Linked DNA regions of Homo sapiens: regions 2 and 3 are each linked to region 1. Evidence: fine-mapped expression QTL. A gene starts in region 1. Each other region holds a variant in brackets. All regions are shown on one strand. Distances are from middle to middle. Region 1 holds the start of TBL1X (transducin beta like 1 X-linked). Region 2 overlaps TBL1X (transducin beta like 1 X-linked). Region 3 overlaps TBL1X (transducin beta like 1 X-linked).

Region 1 (6,400 bases):
TCGTGGAGTTTTAAGAAATATGTATATATATATACACATACATATACACATATGTACATATATCTGTACACGCACACACACACACACACACACACACACACACACACTCTAAAAAAAAATTAGAGACAAGGTCTTCTCTGTCGCCCAGGCTGGAGTGCAGTGGTGAGATCACAGCTCACAGCAGCCTCAACAGGTGTGAGCCACTATGCTGGCCTGCATATTTCAAATACAATCCTTAATCAGATATGGAATTTGCAAATATTTCCTCCCATTCTGTGACTTGTCTTCTCATTCTCTTAACAGTGTCTTTTGTAGACTTTTCAAATTTTAGTGATGCCCAACTTACCAATTTTTTTTTCTTTTACGCATCATGCTTTTGGTGTTCTAGCTACACAGTCATTACCAAACCCAAGGTCATCTAGATTTTCTATGTTATCTTCTAAGAGTTTTTATAGTTTTGCCTTTTACATTTGGGGGTATGTTCTATTTTAAGTTAATTTTTGTGAAAGATAAAAAGCCTAGTTTTTTTTTTTTTTTTGGCATATGGGTGTCCAGTTGTTCCAGCACCACTTGTTAAAAAGGATGAATTGCCTTTGCTCCTTTGTGAAAGATTAGTTAAGTATATTTGTGTGAATTCCTACTGCCTTTTAATTAAAATTTTGGGTACTGTTTATGGGGAATGCTGGTAGTATTTGTTGCAAGCAGATTCTTGTTTTCCCCTCCCTCCAGTCAATAACTGAAAATAAGTGTTTGCAACACACACACGCGCACACACGCACATGGCTAGTGCAGTGGGTTTCTGTGTAAATCACTGTGGACCCCTCGCCCTGTTATCCTTTAGCTTTCTCAGAATACACTACCTCCTTGCCGCTCTACTTTATTTCCTTGTTTTCTCCCACCTTATAGGACTGCACATTTGAAAAATCGTTGAAACAGATTAAATAACACAGTCTAATTATCACCCACCTACAGTCCATCTAGTATTTCAAAAAGAGGAATTTTGGTGATTTCACGATAAATGTAGGCGGTCTCTCTTCCTGTCTTAGGTCTTACAGTGTCCTTTGGGGTCCTGTGAGTCTATGATAAAAGATATTGACTCTTTACGGGTAATAAGGGTGGTGGGATTATGGGGATATTGTCAAACAGTCAAGATGAATTCTCAGCTCTTTTGCATTGTCAATTACAGGAGCTCAGCTGTAAATCCTGGCCACACTGGGCTCCAGTTTGAAAGTGAGGATTTCCACCACTTTCCCATACTTTAAAAGACTGGCATCTGCCAAGTAATCAAAACACACAAAGAGGCCTTTTAACCAAGTTTAGCTTGGAATTTCCAACTGCTAACCACAAGCAGGTCTGGCAAGCTAGGAGGCTGGTTGGCTGCGCAGCTACTCCAGAGTGTGCGGTAGCCGAGGGCTGCGTCCGCGTAAAGCCCAGAGCTGTAATGATGTCAACTTGTTATTTACTTTCCAAATCTGAATGACTGAGCAAGGCGAAAGGAGAATCAATCAACCACAATGTGACCCTACAGGCGGAAAAAACGCAGCACTCCCACCAGCAGGCGGTGGGGGAAGGGAAGCACGTGTAGCCAGGGCAGGGTTGCATCATGAGCTCGTTCGGGTTTTCTATTGCACCCTTCGTTTTTCTATTGCATGTAATACCTCAGCATCAGTCTGCACAAGCCCAGGGAGCCCAGGAGCAACGAAGGGCAGGCTCAAGGGAAGGCCCCACCATGTCCTTCTGGGGGGCCTTGAATGGCAACTGATACATAATAAGACACAATCTATTCTGCTGATTCACAATTATGGAGACTGTGTAAGTGTGTATTTTTTTATTGATGTCCTCTAATGATGGTGTAGCAACAGTCGTTTTGCATCATTGACGTTTTACAGCAATATTTTGCAGGGTAATTTTGAGGTCCGCCGTTTTGGTGGAGGACCGGCCTCTTAAAAACTCACCTCCGGCCGGGCACGGTGGCTCACGCCTGTAATCCCAGCACTTTGGGAGGCCGAGGCCGGCGGATTGCCTGAGGTCAGGAGTTCAGACCAGTCTGGCCAATATGGTGAAACCCCGTCTCTACTAAAAATACAAAAAAAATTAGCTGGGCGTGGTGGCATGCGCCTGTAATCCCAGCTACTCGGGAGGCTGAGGCAGGGGAATTGCTTGAACCAGGGTGGTGGAGGTTGCAATGAGCCGACAGCGCGCCACTGCACTCCAGCTTGGGCGACAGAGCGAGACTCCTCAGAAAAACAAAAACAAAAACAAAAAAACAAAAACCTCACCTTAGGTCCCCCTCCCCCTACAACCAGAACAACAAATGGTCTAGAGTTCGAGGAAGAGCAAGTGAGGTTATAGTTTAGATTGCTGAGTGTACCGGGCTCTTAGCACGAAGCTCATTATATAGTAAAGGAAGGGGCAAGAATATTTGAAAAATATTCAACGAGGCTGACCCCAGAGGTGCTGGGGAGGGGGAGTGGAGATCTGTTTAACTGAATTAAGGCTGCGAGTGGTTGGGAGTAGCCTACGTGGAGGGGAGGAAGGAGCGCTGGGGACTTAGGTACACCGGGGCCAGGCCGTGTAAGCCATTGCAACATAAAGCACTTTGCAAGGGCCAGAGGGCTGATGCCTGGGGGGTTGGGGTGGGAGTGATGAGGCCCGAGTGCCCAGGTCCCCCCAACCTCCTCAGCCCCCACACCCGAGTTCCTGGCGCCTATGCCTGTGTGTCTGAGTTTGTCCCTAAGCATTTCTGGCTCTTCTTGGGAGGTGTTTTGCAAAGGTCGAGGCTCCGCCGGAACCCCCACTTTTTGAGCTGGGGTAAAGACTACTGGGGTGTCTTCTAAGACGCCGATTTTGAGGGAGATTCACCATCGGGCAGGTGGCAGGGGGTTCTGTTGGGGCAGCCGGGTGGCTTCCTTTTTGGGGTGGGGGAGGGTAACACTTTAGCAGTGATCGAGGTTCCCCTGCCCCCTAGAAACTGAGGGGGTGGCCGAGGTTCCCGTCCCCTCGAGGCAGTCGTGGAAAGGCTGGGTTTGGGATGTGATGGGGGTAGCCCTGGGGTCCTCTCAGTCCCACGGAGGCCACGGGGAAGGGACCGGGACCAGAGCAACTAGGGAGAGGCCCGGGTTCCCCTCACCCACCCTAGGCGTGGGGGAGCGGGGCGGGCTTGGTAGGGACGCTGGTCCCCCGACCGTGGGACAGGGGCTGGGTTGGGACGCGGGTCCCCACTAGGAGCCGCGGGGGAGGGGCAGGGCCGGAGTCCCTACCCTCGTAGGGGAGGGGCTGGTTCGGGACGCGGCTCCCCCGGGGCGCAGGGGCGGGGCCGGGTGGTACGCCGGGTCCCCTCCCACGGCCGTGAGGGAGGGGCCGGCGGCGGGGGCGGACCCCTGGCGGTCCTCCTGGCTGGGGTCCGCGCGCTCGCGGCAGCTCCCCGTGGAGGTCACTGTCCGTGCCAGTCCCTCCCGCTGTCCCGCCCTCTCCCGCTGCCGCCGCCGCCGCCGCCGCGCCCGCCTCAGCGCCCCCACTCCGCGCTTGGGAGCGAGGAGCCGCCAGCGCCCCCGCCCCGCCGCCGCCGCAGCGCCCTCAGGCCGCCATTCGCCACCGAAACTTTCCAGCGCCCGCGCTCTCTCCGGGACTCGGCGGCGGCGGGGCGGGGGCGGCCCGGGGGCGGCGCGCGGCTGCTCCGGGGCGCCGGGCCCTCTTCGGCCGCCGCACGGCCGGGACTCGGAGGCTGCCGGCTGGAGGGAGGTTCGGAGCGCGGCCGGGCGCGCGGCGCCGCCACAAGTTGCGCTGCTCGCGACGAGGTGAGTGCGCAGGGCTCGGCGGGCCGGGCGCGGGGTCCGCAAACTTCTGCGGGGAGGCGGGTCCCGCGCTGACCCTCCAGGGTCCGGCCGGCGGCTCGGGGCGCCCGAACGCTCCACCCGCCCCTGGAACTCCTGTAGGTGCAGGTCGCCAACTGTCCCCGCGGCGCTCGGACTGGGGTGCGGCGCGCTCCCAGGAGCCTGAACAATACCCCGAGGTGGCCGCTCCCCGAAGTGCCGGCGCGCCTTGCGGGGAGAGACGGAGGTCGGCGGGGGGCTCCTTTGTTTTGGGGAGGGGGAAGTGGCCGGTAAGTTTAGGGAAGCGCTCGGCTTTTCCTCCGGTGCCCCTTTGTCTGCCGATTCAGGGGCTTGCTGGGCAAACCTGCGCCACCGCGGGCTCCGGGGACCGGGGTGGAGGGCGGTGGCGGGATTTCCCCGCTGTTGGGGAGAAGAGCCCCATTCATACCCGGGACGCGGGCCGGCCCTCCCGGACCCGGGTGGAAGCGCAGCCTCGCGGAGTGGGGCAAGCGGCGGGCGAGGTGGCGCGGGCCCCGTGTCTGCTCAGTTTCTGACGCGCAGAAACTGTCAAGGAAGTCGGGAGCCCCAGTCCTCCGCCCATCTCCCCGGCCTGAGCGCACGGCTGGGCTGGGGGCACCCTTGGCCCGTCGAGGGTCTGCAGAGCGCCGCCCGGGGAGAGCGCAGACCTGTTGCTGCTCCTGGGCTCTGACGGGGCGGGTGGGGTGGGTCTCGCAGATCCTGGGCCCCGGCCTTGCTATCCAGGGGGACCTTCCCTAACGATGGGACCGGTGCTCGGAGTGGAGTATGGGGAGTGCGCCTTCGGGAGTCGGCGCTGGCCGGATATGTGACAACTGTGGGTCGCTGGAGGCCCGCCTGCGCTGGGATAGGGCCTGGACTTCACGTGCGTCGCCTGTGTTCCGTCAGACCGGGGCCGGGGCTCGCTCCCTGCAAGGCCTCGTGTTCCCCCAGCCAGCTGCGTTGGACGTTCCACAAAGGTAGGGACTGACGTTTATTCTCGAGTCAGTGATGTTCTGGAGCAAAACCTAAAAAGAAACAAAAACCTACCCTCTATTGTATTTGCAACTGTTTCTGCTTTGCATTGTCATGTGTGGTTTGACCTGCCTTTTGGATGTTTTCCTCTCCTGAAACATCGCCCAGTCCCTGGTTTAACCTGGAAGGCGAGGGGGAAGGAAGGCAACCTCCCTGCTAAGGTTCCAGGCAGTGGCTTTGGTGTTGGAAGTGGCACTTGACGATTTTATGAAAAGTTTACAAGTCCTTCCTAGAAAAGATGTAATTAGGAAAAATAAAATACAGAAGAACGTTGAGTATGACGCGTTTATTTTAAAGGGTAGTCCTGTCTCAAATGTGCTGCACATTTTTGTGGAAAGCCACCAAGCTGGGTAACTAATGCAAACAACAAAAGTTGTTCATCACTGGATCACCGGCCCTTAAGGCGATTCCAGCCCTTAGTAGAACACACACCTGTAGGGCAAATATGGAGATTTGTGGTGTAGTGCTGCCACCCTCGCTCCCCAACTCTCAGGCATTTTGCCCCTTTACCTCAGAGAACTTCTCTCTGTCAGTGGTTTTAAAGAGGAAACAGTTTGCAAAAATAACTTTATTGTAGACATACTTAGAAGTGAATGTTTCAATTTCTGGAGTTTTCCCATCAATTATATCAGTACCACTGGTTCTGTACAACATCATCTTAGTTAGAAGATTTTTTTTCACCTTTTAAGGTGACGAACAGAGGCGGGAAAATGGTCCCTGCAGAGGGAGGCCATCTCCAGCAGGTCCCGAGGGTCAGGAATTCAGATTATCCGATCTACTCCTGCTGGATAGGAGCACACCTCCGCTAGAACCTGGGTCCGGCCCCCTCCCAGTTTTCTGCAGGGCGTCCAGATTCCGGTGCTCTGCCCCGCAGCAGTGCCCTGTGGGCCTCCTGGCTTAGCTGATCAGCACAGCTTCTCTGCCCAGCGAGGCAGGACCATCCTCCCACTGCTTTCCTGATGCCTTGGATTTGCTTTTTTTCCTCCCTTAGGAAAAGCAAAAAAACCTAATATGCTACATCCGAGAAGTTGTTAATCTTTCACTACCACATGCATTGAAAAATCAGTTCCACCCAGGAAGCAACACTAAAGGCATATTGTAAACACTTTTTTTTTTTTAGTTGGAAAGATAAACTTTTTTCCCCCATAACTATTTTTAGTTAGCCGGAGACTGGACTCGAGTTTTTACCTCCGGTCTTGCCCCCTCCACTCCCGCCCTCACTTTCTGTGGGGCTCGACCACATGGACCATGCTGGCCAGACTGGCAAACATGAAACCCACCAGAACCAAAAGAAAAGCTGGATATGGGAAGGGGCCGAAGAAGTCCACATGTTTCTAAAGGGCAAAGAGCCTAGGCTGAGGAGAGACGTTTCAGATCTCCAGGGGAGAAAGACAGCCGTTAAGGAGTCCGCCGGGCTGCTGCCTGCCTGGCCAGCGGGAGCCTGACTTCAGATGCCTGCGCCTCCCAAGCTGGCCCCCTCCCACACAGCCATCGCCATCCAGTATTTAGGGAGAATCCACCGCATGCCTGAAGGTTGC
Region 2 (6,400 bases), 73 kb after region 1:
AAAATACAGTGTTGAGTATTTTCCTTTTCTCGTTTTTCACTAAAGTAGACTCAGGATTGGGGTTATCTGTCAGTCCCTTGGTTTGATTCTTGGCTGCCAGTGTTTACTGGGGACGGATGTTGGTACCTCCCTTAATAGGATATTGTTACAGCATTTTACAAATTCTGGTTAAAAAAAGTCCCACATGAGATCTCCCCTCTTCCCCCCTCTCTGAGTGTAGGCATTGTCAGCTGCAGTTGTCCAGCATCTCCAGGACTCTTTTCATTTGCGGGATGGAAACAATGTACCCTCTGAACAACTCCTCCCTGTTTCTCCTCCCTCCAGCTCCTGGCAACCACTATTCCACTCCCTGCTTCTTTGAATTTCACAACTTGAGGTAGCTTGTGTAAGTGGAATTATTTTAAAAGCTGGTTCATGTTAAAGTGCTTAGAACAGAGCTTGGTGAGCATCCGGTCAACAGTAAGTACTTTTATTATTCTTTTTATATTACTCTTTTTTTTTAAAGAGGCCAGACACATGGGCTTCTGTCTTTTCACAGCTTGGGATCTGTGCAGACCCAGGCTTCCAGAAGCCATCCCACTTGAATTCTTACTCCCTTTTCCCCTAAAAAGAAGCTCTGAAATCCTAATTGTCAAGAAGGCTTTGCCTGCTGTGCATGCCTGAGTAATGTTATTTTTGTCATTATTTGAGAGACAGAGAGGAAGCTTCCAGTCCCCTGTAAGGAAACGAAATCATCGTGCACAGATGTGGTTCTGTTTATAGAGGGAAGGAAATGGAGGTGAAGAGTGTGTGTGGCTTGCAGCCAGGCTTGCGAGTGTGCAGAGGAATAAACTTTTTTGCCTCCAGAGTTTTAACTGGAAATGTGTCTGAATTCTACCTCCTGGGCACACTGGCCTGAGGTCTCCCCTGCATACCTGATCGTGAAAGTCTTCGGGTGTGTTTGTAAACACGCAGCCCCCCTGATGTGAGAGTCAGCACAAACTTCTAAAGATGCGATGATGAATTCTATCAGAGAAGTCTTTCTGGTTTTGTGAAAATAACCTTGCACTCTTTAATTATATCCAAATGATCAAATCTGGCTCTGATGTCTTGTCAAAATTAATGTTAAAGGACAGTGCCCTTTATATTTTACTTGTCTGGGTATAAACATCCTAGTCTTTAAAGTTGAGTCTGTAGGACTACCTCTCTACTTGATTACTCTGAAAAGAGTGTATAGAGTGAGTTTTTAAAATGGAATTAGTGTGCATACGAGGAACAGAGTGACATTTAACAAATCCTTCAATAGATAGTGCTGGTATGAGGATTGGTGAAACTAGAGGTAGGGAATGAGCATTTTTGGTTCTGTATCATATTCCCAAGACATTTTCAAATGATTCACCCTTTGCCATCAGAATGGTTTGAAATCGATCAGCCTGAATCCACTAATGTGGGCTGCGGCACATGAATTTTAACACTAGAAGCACACGGTTGTGCTGTGTTTCAAATGAACTCTGGCCATTTGAAGTGAGCAGGCATAGGCAGTCTTCTGTCCTGTGATAACCTCAGTACATATCCTTTCTGTTTTTTAAAGTACCTTACAAGCTGCTGCATTACAGTCGTTATTATTGGGCCATTACAAAAAGCTGTCCAATTTTAAGTGTCTTGGATAATTCTTGTTTGCCCCAGCATCAGAATTGAGCATTTTTTTTTTTTTTTAGATGGAGTCTTGCTCTGTCACCAGGCTGGAATGCAGTGGCGTGATCTCGGCTCACTGCAACCTCCACCTCCCGGGTTCAAGCGATTCTTCTGCGTCAGCCTCCGGAGTAGCTGGGACTACAGGCATGCACCACGATGCCCAGCTAATTTTTGTATTTTTTAGTAGAGATGAGGTTTCACCATGTGGGCCAGCATGGTCTCGATCTCTTGACCTTGTGATCTGCCTGCCTTGGCCTCCGAAAGTGCTGGGATTACAGGAGTGAGCCATTGTGCCTGGCCAAAATTGAGCACTTTTATCATGTAGTATTCATGTCTTACTGGCAATGCCCTGTAAAGTTAAATAAGTTACATTTGTCTTGCACAGGTAATAATTATGAGGTAATTTCCACAGAATCCAAGGGCCTCATTGACTTTGCTATAAAATCAAAACAGTGAATTCTGATAAGACTAGACGCATGTTACTCTTAAATTGGGCTGTCTCCTGGCCACTGTTGTGCCTTTAACCTCAGCAGAAGGGGAGCTGGGCTGCAGAGTGAAATTACCCGGAGGTCAAATATTGCTAATTTGACTTTTATCATAGAGACATTTTCTCCTCTCGCACCAAGGCAGTGGCTTTAATCCCTCTTTCAGTGGTGAGACAGGTGCAAAGCGTTTACAAAAGGCTTTCTCTTGTTTTGAATGCGCCAAGAAAGATTTCCAGGCCGTTAAGTTACCAATCCTTCTTTTTAAGTCTTGAAGCAATTACTGTAAGGTCAATCCACTAATTTCCTTTCAGAGTTACCAAAGACCTCTCATGTAATCATTTGGTACTTGTTGCCATGTAGCCAGTATCACTGAGTGCTTTTACTGTGAGCAAAGCACAATGCATCGGGCAGGGAGGGATCCAAAGGGATCTTGGTTTTTACCTTTGAGCCATCTGTGGTCTTGAGTGATCTACGTGCATTAGCAATTAAAAGGTCCTGATATTCTTGTTTGGGCATATTGAAAAATGTGCTCTTACAGATAGGTTTCCTCTCTCTACTGCCCCCCGCCCCCCAATTTTTTTTATTGTGGTAAAATACATAAAACAGAATTTACCATCATAACCATTTCTAAGTACACTGTTCAACAGCATTAAATATTCATTACATTGTGCAATCCTCACCACGATCCATCTGCAGAACTTTTTCATCATACCAAACAGAAAACTGCCCCATTAAACACAAACTCCCTATTCTTCCCTCCCCACAGCCCCAGCAACCAACGTTCTACTTTCTCTCTCTATGATTTTGACACTCTAGGGACCTTTTATATGTGGGATCATATGGTATTTGTCCTTTTGCGTCTGGCTTAGCACAAGTTTCATCCATGTCATAGCATGCGTCAGAATTTCCTTCCTTTTTAAGGCTGT[A/G]TAATATTCCAGTGTATGGATGGACTACACTCTGTTTATCCACTCATCTGTCAGAGGACACATGGGTGGCTTTCACCTTTTGGCTGTTGTGGATAATGCTGCTATGAGCATTGGCATATGTTTACTTCTCATTGATTTAAGTTTACATAGTCATGTGTGGCTAGTGGCTGCTGTATTAGACAGGACAACCCTAGGCCTGATAGCCCTGAGGACCTAGTTTGGGTGGGAAGACAGGGGTGACCTGCAGCGAGTTGTCGGCTGGGGGCCTTGGTGAGAGCCAGATCTGGGTTGTGAGGCCACTCGAGGCAGGGGGAATGGTGTGGCGGGAAGTGAGGCCCAAAATGAGAATTTCAGAGTTGAAAGCTTTGGAAGTAACATGATGCTCTATGACTGTGACCAGACTCAACTGCACCAATGTGCATCTGAGATCAGGTCATTGGCGTTGAAATCGTGAAATGCTCACTGCTTGGGACGTTTGCACTGTGCTTGATGTCTGGAGGTTCCGTTAATGTTAAAATAGCAATTATGGGACTGGAGATTAGGTTTAATGTCTGGGTTTTTTCCACTGTCTTCAAAAGCCCGGGTCTTAGTAGTAACCATGCTGCTCCCCATTTTAGTAATTTCAGCCTGGTTTATGTTGCTCAATAGCAGAAAAGCGGTTCAGATTTCCTTTGGATATCATGGACCATATGTTTGCCCAGGTATCCTTTCTTATTGGGAACTATCAAATAGTTAACACAGATTTCTCCAAGGGCACCGACTGGGAAATTAGTTTACCAAAGATAAATTTGGTAAAAGGAAAGTTTTTATGTGCGCTATCCTTAAACTAAGACACATCTGTCGAAATATTAGGACGTGCCCAGTCTCCCATCCTCTGCTGAAACTTTAGACTGTACGTCCTTCAGATATCTTCTCTTTGGTGCTTTGTTTGGGAACAGATTAGCCTCATACTTCCTCGCTTGTAAAACTGCTATCCCATCTCTTGCTCAATGCTTTTCTTGTACCGAAGGGTGAGGGGGAGGTTCCAGCTCTGTTTTCTGTATCAGTTTCCTGGGTGATGTTTGTTTGAGGGTGCCTTGTGTCCAGAGCCCCAGAAGGTGTTTCCGTTCTCTGATGAGCCTGAAGTCTGCATGCTTCGCCTTTGGTAGGGAAAGGCAGCTGGGGAAAGGTTGCATGGCCCAGTGCCAGGGTGCCAGAGTGCGTGTGCACCTGCTGGGGAGAAGCCCGCTGGGGCCCCTCCTCTCAGCACAAGATGAGGCCTCAGGGCAGTGCAGCAGATGGAGGGCTTAGCTGTCCTTGCCAGCAAAAGCTGCTGGGAACGTGGCACTCAGATAACAGGACGGTTGAGAAGCGGTGAGTTAGGGTTACTCTGATGGGGAGATACTGAGAGGAGGGGATGACAATCTTGATTTCTGTTCCCTTTGTGAATCTTTTGGTGGCCAAAATGAGGAAAAGGATACATTGTGTTTGAGGACAACAAGGAACATCTAGGCACATTGCATACTTGATTAAATGCACAAAGAGCTTCTTGTGACCTTTATCACAAGAGTGTGGTTCTATGAAGGTCGTAGGTACAATAGAAATTGTGTTGGTCTGAGAGTTACTCAGATTAGGGTGCATTGTGTCACCACCATTTTGCATAGCTGTGGCACCTTGTCAAGTTAACCTTTTCCTGCTTGCTTTTCCTAATCAGAAGAATGAAGTTGACCGTATGTACTCTATAAGGTGGTTGTGTGAGGTCAATGAGATTACATAGGCAAAATCTTGGTGCAGGGGCACTTGGTAAAGGTTAGTTTCTGTTATAAATTTGGGGTATTCTGTGATGATTCCTACTCCCCTCTTCTCCTCATGGCTAAGTTCTACTTATTCTTTGACGTGGCTCCGATATCACTTTCCTCAGGAAGCCCGGTTTCCCACCCAGATGGCTTTGGGCTACTCATCAGTGTTCTGTAAAATGCTGAGAATATTGTTTATAGCACTTCTGGGTTGTTTTGTGATAGTCTTTTGAGATATCTGTCTCCTCACCAAACTGTTCTTTGTGTCATGGGCAGGCCCACGTCATCCTCGTCTTTGTAGTCCTGCACCTGGCACAGAGCCTGGCACATAGCTCAGTCAAACAGGTGAAGACTGGGTTATTACATCTTCCCACTCCACCCCCTTCATTATCAAGTCGTGGTCAGGGCATGCCCCACCAAATGCAAACCCTACTAGGCAGTACAGCTGAGACTTGGAACTAGACTAACCCAGTGACTCAGAAATGTGCCACAGGACTTATTTGGCTCTAGATGGGGTCTTAAAAGACATTCATAGTTGCAGGCAGAACAGAATATCCAGAACAGGTGCAGAATAACCTGTGTGTACACAGTAGGTGGTAGTTATAATGCAGGAAGAATTTGGCACAAGAAGTGTTACAGTTTAAAATGAAGTCATGGGCCCTATCCACACTGGGGACAGAGATAATAGTAACTAATCATCATCACTGTCATCACTAGCCCATTGTCAGAGGTAGCACTGAACACTTATGCGTTAGCCAGGATTTGGGTTCTAGAGGGTTTAGTGTACTAGTTGGGTTACCAAGACAAAGATGCAGGCATGGGGTGCAAGTTAACAAAGGTTATACACTAGGTGGCAACTGACTCACAGGAGCCTGGTTATTGCAGCGGTTGTGGCCAGAGCCATACAAGTGTTCTGATGCCCCTCAACTGTGTTGAAATTTGTTTGAGGCCAACCAAGTCAGCTGGCGAGGGGGAAGGCAAGCCAGAGAGAAATTGTGAACCAGAAAGGCCCCACCTCTGGCAGTGGCTCTTCCATTGGAGATGAAGTCTTCTTGCCCTGTTTTTCTCTTTAAAAAAGTGAGCCATTTCACAAGGGAAGTTAAATTAAAAACTGTGCTTGTTAGCGCGGAGCTGGGACAACCGAGGGAAGTGATGCCAAAGGCAATTGTTGGTCTTTCCTTCAAATATGTGCTGACTTAGGAAGAGCAAAATGTTTTATATTAACAATTAACAAAAGACTAAGTCTTTCATCACAAACAAGTCTAAATTCAGTGGTTAGGTCAGTATTATATTTTCCTATAGTTTTAAATAAGATGCTTATGTATTCACTAGTGCTTTGGATGTTCTTTGGAAAAATCTCCAATTTAGTGACAAGCCCCAGGAAATATTACTCTTAGTTGGTCCAGCATCCTATATTGTTTGTGAAATCCCTCTTTTATTGTCTTTTAAAGGTTGTAAAATGCTTTTTCTGTCAATAATCAGAGAAGGATGCCGCATTCATATTACCCCAGTTTCCAACTCAACCTCTCCTTTCCAATTG
Region 3 (6,400 bases), 250 kb after region 1:
ATCCACGCAAATGTGGCAGATTCCGCAGGCATAAGTAATCAGGTTCACTCCTCGTGGTGGGAAGTCCTAGAGGCACATCTCCATGGCCCCCAGAGTCCTTACTGAAAACCCTTAAATTTCACCATGCTTGAAAATGTTCATGACGAAACGTCAGGGCCGGAGGAGCGCACATTCCACACCTGCATCTGTCGCAGGCGCCCCTTGCGTTGTAAGTGACAGCTGCTTTGCTTTGCAGAGTGGAAATCTTGTCCACAGCTACCGAGGCACTGGCGGCATCTTCGAGGTGTGCTGGAACGCCCGAGGAGACAAAGTGGGTGCCAGCGCGTCCGACGGCTCTGTAAGCAACACCTCTGGTTTGCTGGGGAGTGGGGTGTTGGGGGCAGCTGATGCCTAAGTGAGCTTCCAGGGCGTGTGCAGCATTCGTGTCCTGAAGGGCCTAGCCCAGTGCCAAAGGAAGCTTCTGGGCTGGATCCCATCGGAGTTGGTACCACATCTGGGAATGGCCTTCTCCTTGTCCCTTCCAGAGTGTCCTTCTAGTCAACATTTTCTCAGTCAAATTGGTGGTTCTCAACCAGGGTGATTCTGCACCTCTAAGGACATTAGACAATATCTGGAGCCATTTTAGGTTGTCACTACAGTCATGTGTCGCTTAATGACGGGAACGTTTTGGGAAATGTGTCATTAGGCACTTTTATCTTTGTCTGAACATCATAGAGTGACTGACACAAACCTAGATGATAATACCTGTCCCACACCGAGGCTGTGTGGTACAGCCTATTGCTCCCAGGCTACAAACCTGGACAGCGGGTGACCATACTGATTCCTGTAGGCAACCAGAACACAATGGTAAGCATTTGTGCGTCCGGATCTATCTAAACATAGAAAAGGTTCAGCAGATATATGGTTATAATCTTACAGGACCACTGCGGTCTGTGCGGTGCGTTGTTGCTGGAAACGTCATTATGTGACGCGTGACTGTGCTTAGATGAGGATGCTGCTAAACCTCCTACTGTGCACAGGGTGGCCACAATTGTCACCCATGCTGTGGCTGAGAAGCCCGGGCCTCTGGTGGCCATCCTGCAGGTCTCCTGGGCCCTCTTCTCTTCCCATGGGGCATCTGGATTTCTTATTTTCCCCTGGACTTGAGGTTGCCCTGACCTCTGGGGCAAGCGGCCGTTCTGGCTGAACGGCCAAGGGTCAGAGTAGTCCCCAAATGTTGTCAGAGGCTGTGTACTTGGGCTCGTATTGTCATCTGCCCCACGATTGCAGGTGTCCCTTCTGGGACCTCTGCCACTCTGTTAATTCCTATCATTACCCTTAACCTGGCCTTTCTGCTCTGTGCTGTTTGCTTCAGTTTGCTCGGTCCGATGTCCAGATGCCAGTCTGTTATGAGAGCTTCTCTGACCCTTCATGACGATGTTCCAATAAACTTTACTGACAAACATCGGTGGAGGGCTAGATTGGGCGTGGGGGCCGTAGCTTGCCGACTTCTCACTCTAAAGGCATCTTTGTATTGTCTCTCAAGATGACAGGTGCTTTATCTTTCCTTCCAGGTGTGTGTTTTGGATCTGCGGAAGTAACCACAAAATATTATCGAAAAAAGAAAAGAATTCTAATGACCAGCCGTGAATGTGTAGGGTTGCAGCTCTATTCTCCAAAACTGTAGGAACTTGACTTGCGTTAGAGTGTACTCTGAAACCAACTCGTCTCTGGCCGCAGGAGTCTATATGTTTTCGTAATCTTCATCAAGAAGTTTTTAAAAGGCAAGCAAAAACAGAAGCAAATCATATCAAACGGGGATAGAATGGTTTCCACTGAGGACATTCAGCCTGGGAAGGAGGAAGTCACCAGCTCGAGGCGTGTGGATTGGTTTCCACCCGGAACAGGCTCTGTGATGGCTGAATGGAAAGAAACGTAAAAAGCTGTGCCAAAAAAAAAGCAAAATGCTGTGATAAACCAAACAGGGAAGGGGGAAAAACCCTCCTCCTTGGGATTTTTTTTTTTTGTTTTCCCTAACAATTTGGACACTACAATTGCTCTCACAAAGGAGGTTCAAAGACCAGTTTGTACCGATGAAACGCGCAACTTTGTAATCCCAACACTTTCTATTTTCTAGAATCTTCTTTGTTCATTGGGTGGTTTTTCAGTCGGCTGGAATTCTATCTTCTGGGGGCCTTCCGTCTGAGATGGAAGCTGTCTTGGGCTTGTTGTCTCTTCCTTCTGTTGCTCCCTGCCCCTCCCCCTGCCTTTCCACTCTGTCTGGTGAGCTCTGCTTTTTCAGTGCACCATCAAGAGATGCAGCCCCGTGGACATGAAGACACAATCTCCCACGGACAGCTTTCCCCCTTCCGCCCTCTCCCACCCTCTCCTCCCCTTGCGCTCGCGCTCGCGCTCGCTTTCTCACTGGCGTGCTCTCTTTCTCTCTCTCTCTCCCTCTGTACCTTTCTCATAGTTGCTTCAGATCTTAGGTCTCAAGGGCACTTTGGCGCGTAGTAAGTGCTTTATGTAAGAAGGCAGGGCAGGGGGGCTTTTTACAGGAGAAAAAAAAATGACTTATAAGAGAAAGAGCCTGGAGTATTTTTGGAAAAAAAAATAATATTTTTATGTTAAAACAATTTTAAAATCTTAAAATGGCCATCAGACATAGAGAGCTTTGTGTGATTCATGTTTTAAAAAGAACCGAAGAAGCCACAGGCAGGGCCTGAGGGAGCCCCTGGCTTTCCCCTCAGCCTCAGGAAAGGTGGTCAGGAAAACTCTGGCTGGACAAGGGTCAGTCTTCGGGGTCAGCAGCGAGATTGCTCTGCAGCCAGTGAGGGAGGTCCCCGCCATGCCGGCTGGAAGAAGAACCTCGCATCTTTTGGTGTGTATGCACCTTGGCAGCCAGCAGGAAAGCAGCGAAGAGCCGCGCGCCCTCTGGCCTCAAGGGAGCATTGGCAGAACCATAAGGTACTGCAGAAGCCGTCGAAACCGACTGCTCGGCTGGATTAGGCGTGTTGGCTACATCTTTCCCACAACCGTATAACGACCGATGGTCATTTCTCCAAGAGCAGGCTTGGCGAGTCCTTGCAGAGCTGACATAGAGGCGCCCGCATGTCACTTAGTCTAACGCTGACAGAAATGAATGCAGAAGGAAGATTTTCAGTCCTGAACGTGAATTATAGAGGTAGAACGTCGCTAATAATTTCTGCCATCTT[T/C]ATAATTTCTTTGTCTCACAGAAGACTAGGAGAAAGATCTTTTTTAAATAATCTTTTTGCTGTTTTTAAAAAATTAAACAAGGCTTTGTGTTCCTAGAAGAGCTTCATTTCAGTGAATCTGGTGACCTCCATCTGCTTGCTGTCATAACCCGACACGGACTTATTTTTGTCATTAGCAAGGGGGAAAAGGCCAAAGGACAAGGGCCTCTTCTCCCATTGGTTTTCCTGTGGGCAGAAGGGCTGAGGAAGATGGCCCAGCCCGTGGGGGCTGCTGGGTCACCAGCAGTGGGTAGGGTGCAATCTGGTGTGTGTTCCAGCAGTGAGACGGTGTTATTGTGAAGGTGGCATTCATCTGCGGAGCCAAAACCCAGCCATCGGGGAAGGGTCAGGGCTTCTGTGGAACTTGGAACGTGCCAGGACCACCTGCAAAAGCCAGGGTGCGTTGATCATTCTCAGATCATTGATTGGCCTCCACTTGGGTATGTGAATTATTCATGTCCCAGAAGACCAAAAAGTGCTCTGGTTCTGAGATGAGTATTTTATTCGTGTTCTGTTTCCGAAACACTTAGCAAAGAAGGTCACAGTGATGTGGAGTCGCCGCACCCATCTTTGAAGATAGCCAGTGTCCCTGGATGAGGTGATGATTTCCCGTCCCAAGGACTCTGTGAAGTTTAGAGTACAGTTTGTTGGGGTCCAAAAGACACCATCTCTACCCCACCCAAATAAAAATGCACTCATCTCTGTAGAACATCTGCTGTCAAAGGCCAGCCTGTCGTTAGGGCATGGCTTATGCTTGACAAACCAGTAACAACTGTGGGATGGCGATGGTGGGATGTGTCGCAAGCAATTCACTAGACAATCTTCACATGAATGTCGGTAGCCAGGGTCTCTCCCGAGGGATGGCTTTAGTCTTGATGAATGTGAACCATGTCGGAATTGTTAGGTAGAAACCTGGGCTGGGAGGCCTCGGACCCCAGGCTCCATCCCTGGCTTCCCCAGCCTGCGGCCGCAAGCAAAACCAAGCGCGAGATGCAGCTAGCACCCTTCATATCCATCCCCGTTCTCAGCGGGACAACACCATGGACAGCCGTTTTCAGAGCCTCCAGCATTTGCACACCACTACTCACCCTCTCTGCTGCTGGCATGTTGGTAGAGTCATCCCTGTAATCAAGAAATGGCCTGTGGAATGTTATTGTTCAACGTTGTTTACAGCTCTTAAAACATGGTGAGGAATGCCTAAGTCTTAGTGACCAAACGTGACCTTGAAAGCAGACATAGCATGACAGACCTTCCTAGAGTGTTTGGTCGGGTTCACAGTGACCGAGAGTCAGGTCCAGCACACACCTGGGAAAGGGATGCTGCCCCAAGGGGGACCAAAAGGGCCGGACGTTACAGGGTGAAACCCTCTGACCCCTCGCGACACCGTAGGACTTGACTTTTGTTTAGTCTTTCTAAGAAATAGATCATGGAGCCAAGTGAAGTGCACTTTGTCAAATGTAAGGGTCTGCTTTGTTCTTGTTGCTTTTCTGTTTTTTAACCTTTTGTTCCGCCATTTAAAAAAAGAAAAAAAAAAAGCTTATGTTTCTTGTCAAATGCAGAAATGTTCCTTCCGCCACTCACTGAAGTTTTGCATTCTGGCTTGTGCAGTTTTTATTGTCTGTGTCAGACGTACAGCCAGACATGTTCTCTATTGGCATTTTTCCGATTCTGTTCAGATGACAGCGACCGCCTTTTCATTCCCCCCGCCACCTGTACTCACCCTCACGCTCTTTGAAGAAAAAAAAAAAAATCACCTTGTGTGTTGTAGCTCATTTGTTTCAAGAGAGAATCAACAGATCATATTCAGTGTCTTGAATAAATTGCTCTATTTTGATATTAGAGAACTTGGTGGGTGTGCTTTCTTCCTCTCGCTCTGGAACTCTTGGGCCCACGTTGACTGAATGACTGAAGACAGAGCTCTGTATTTTCTCCAGAAGGAAGTACCTTGAGCCTCTGTTTAGGATTGCTGTGTGAGATAGGGAGCTGGGAGCAGAACGCAGTGACATGGCAGTCACAGCAGCCGCCTGCTGTTCTGAAAGGTGGTTCTGTCCAGGGATCATGTTTTTTAGTGTGTTTCCTTTTCATTCTTTATTTCAGGCTGGCTGTTGGAGAAAGACAAAGCAAATGAATGTTCTCTCATCAGCGGATTGGTTGACCGGGAGTTTGAGTTCCCGAATTACCCCCGAGTAATTTGCAGAACCTAACAGGATGGGGTGACTTTGGACATGGACGTCTGCATGGTGCAAACCAACATGTGGCAAACATTTATTGACATTTGCTCTGTGCATGTCTTCATTTATGCTGCTTTAATTAATTAGGTGGCTGTTAAATAATGTAATTAGTGAATGGATATTGCTATCGGCATTCTATGAAGGAGGCTGTAGATTCCGAGAGGCGAAGAGATGGCCTTACTCTTAGTCTAAGGTTTCACTTTGCAGATGAGTCCCAGACAAAGTCACGGTGTCATTTCCCTCTAATCCTGCTTGTTCCGCACTAGGACAAAGCAGATGGCTAGGGGCGTAGAGGCTTCTGTGGTGATTCCCTGGGAAAGATCCAAGTGTGCCTGTGACCTTCACTGATGATCCGGACTTTTGCAGGAACCAAATCCCAAATTCAAGTCTTGAATTGGCAACTGAAGACTGAATATTATATGAGCAGTTGTCACCTTTAGAGAAAAACTTACCCTATCTTCCGGTGTTTTCTGGGGTTCACCTTCTCATTTTCATTTTTCTCTTTAGCCCCTGCCAAGTGGAGCAAGTGTGTTGCCAGGTGGTGGATTTGGGGCACCCTGAGGGGTACTGCAGAACCCTGGGACAGCTCGGGAAGAACCGCATGGAAACAGTGGGCAGACAACAAAGCATGCGGCAGTTCCCAGGATAAATGCACGTGTGGCGGGTGGCTTTGGTGGCTCCCCTAAGAATGCCGTTGACGTATGACTGGCTCTAAGTGGGTTTCTTTGTGATATAGAGGAAAGTTGATTGGGACCACGATTGCCAGAATTTATATAACTTAAATCTTCAGATGGATGGAACCCTTCCCCGCAGTGCGTCTCAAAAGGTTCCCCCAGTCCATTGAAGCTCCTCCTTTATTTTAGGAATCTAAGTTTCAACTCACTAAACAGAGATCTCGCTTTTTTTTTTAAATTGCCCCATCTTGGTGCTGTTTCA

The links. PIP is the estimated chance that this variant, and not a neighbour inherited with it, causes the effect.
Region 2: its variant is fine-mapped to the expression of TBL1X in whole blood (TOPMed, PIP above 0.99).
Region 3: its variant is fine-mapped to the expression of TBL1X in whole blood (TOPMed, PIP above 0.99).

Annotation. Positions count from the first base shown.
Region 1 is chrX:9,461,651-9,468,050 of GRCh38, forward strand. TBL1X (transducin beta like 1 X-linked) reads left to right here and starts at 3,408. Exons shown (of 18, transcript NM_005647.4): 1 at 3,408-3,797. RefSeq lists enhancers at 1,339-1,633, 2,008-2,836, 2,664-2,863 and silencers at 3,094-3,673, 3,794-3,933, 4,234-4,383.
Region 2 is chrX:9,534,576-9,540,975 of GRCh38, forward strand. All of the region lies in intron 2 of TBL1X (transducin beta like 1 X-linked), which reads left to right. Among named protein-coding and RNA genes, the nearest start is that of TBL1X, 73 kb to the left of the region's middle. The variant A/G (reference allele first, on the strand shown) is at 3,086.
Region 3 is chrX:9,714,667-9,721,066 of GRCh38, forward strand. It overlaps TBL1X (transducin beta like 1 X-linked), which reads left to right. Exons shown (of 18, transcript NM_005647.4): 17 at 236-337; 18 at 1,554-5,074. The coding sequence ends at 1,580. Among named protein-coding and RNA genes, the nearest start is that of GPR143, 48 kb to the right of the region's middle. The variant T/C (reference allele first, on the strand shown) is at 3,195.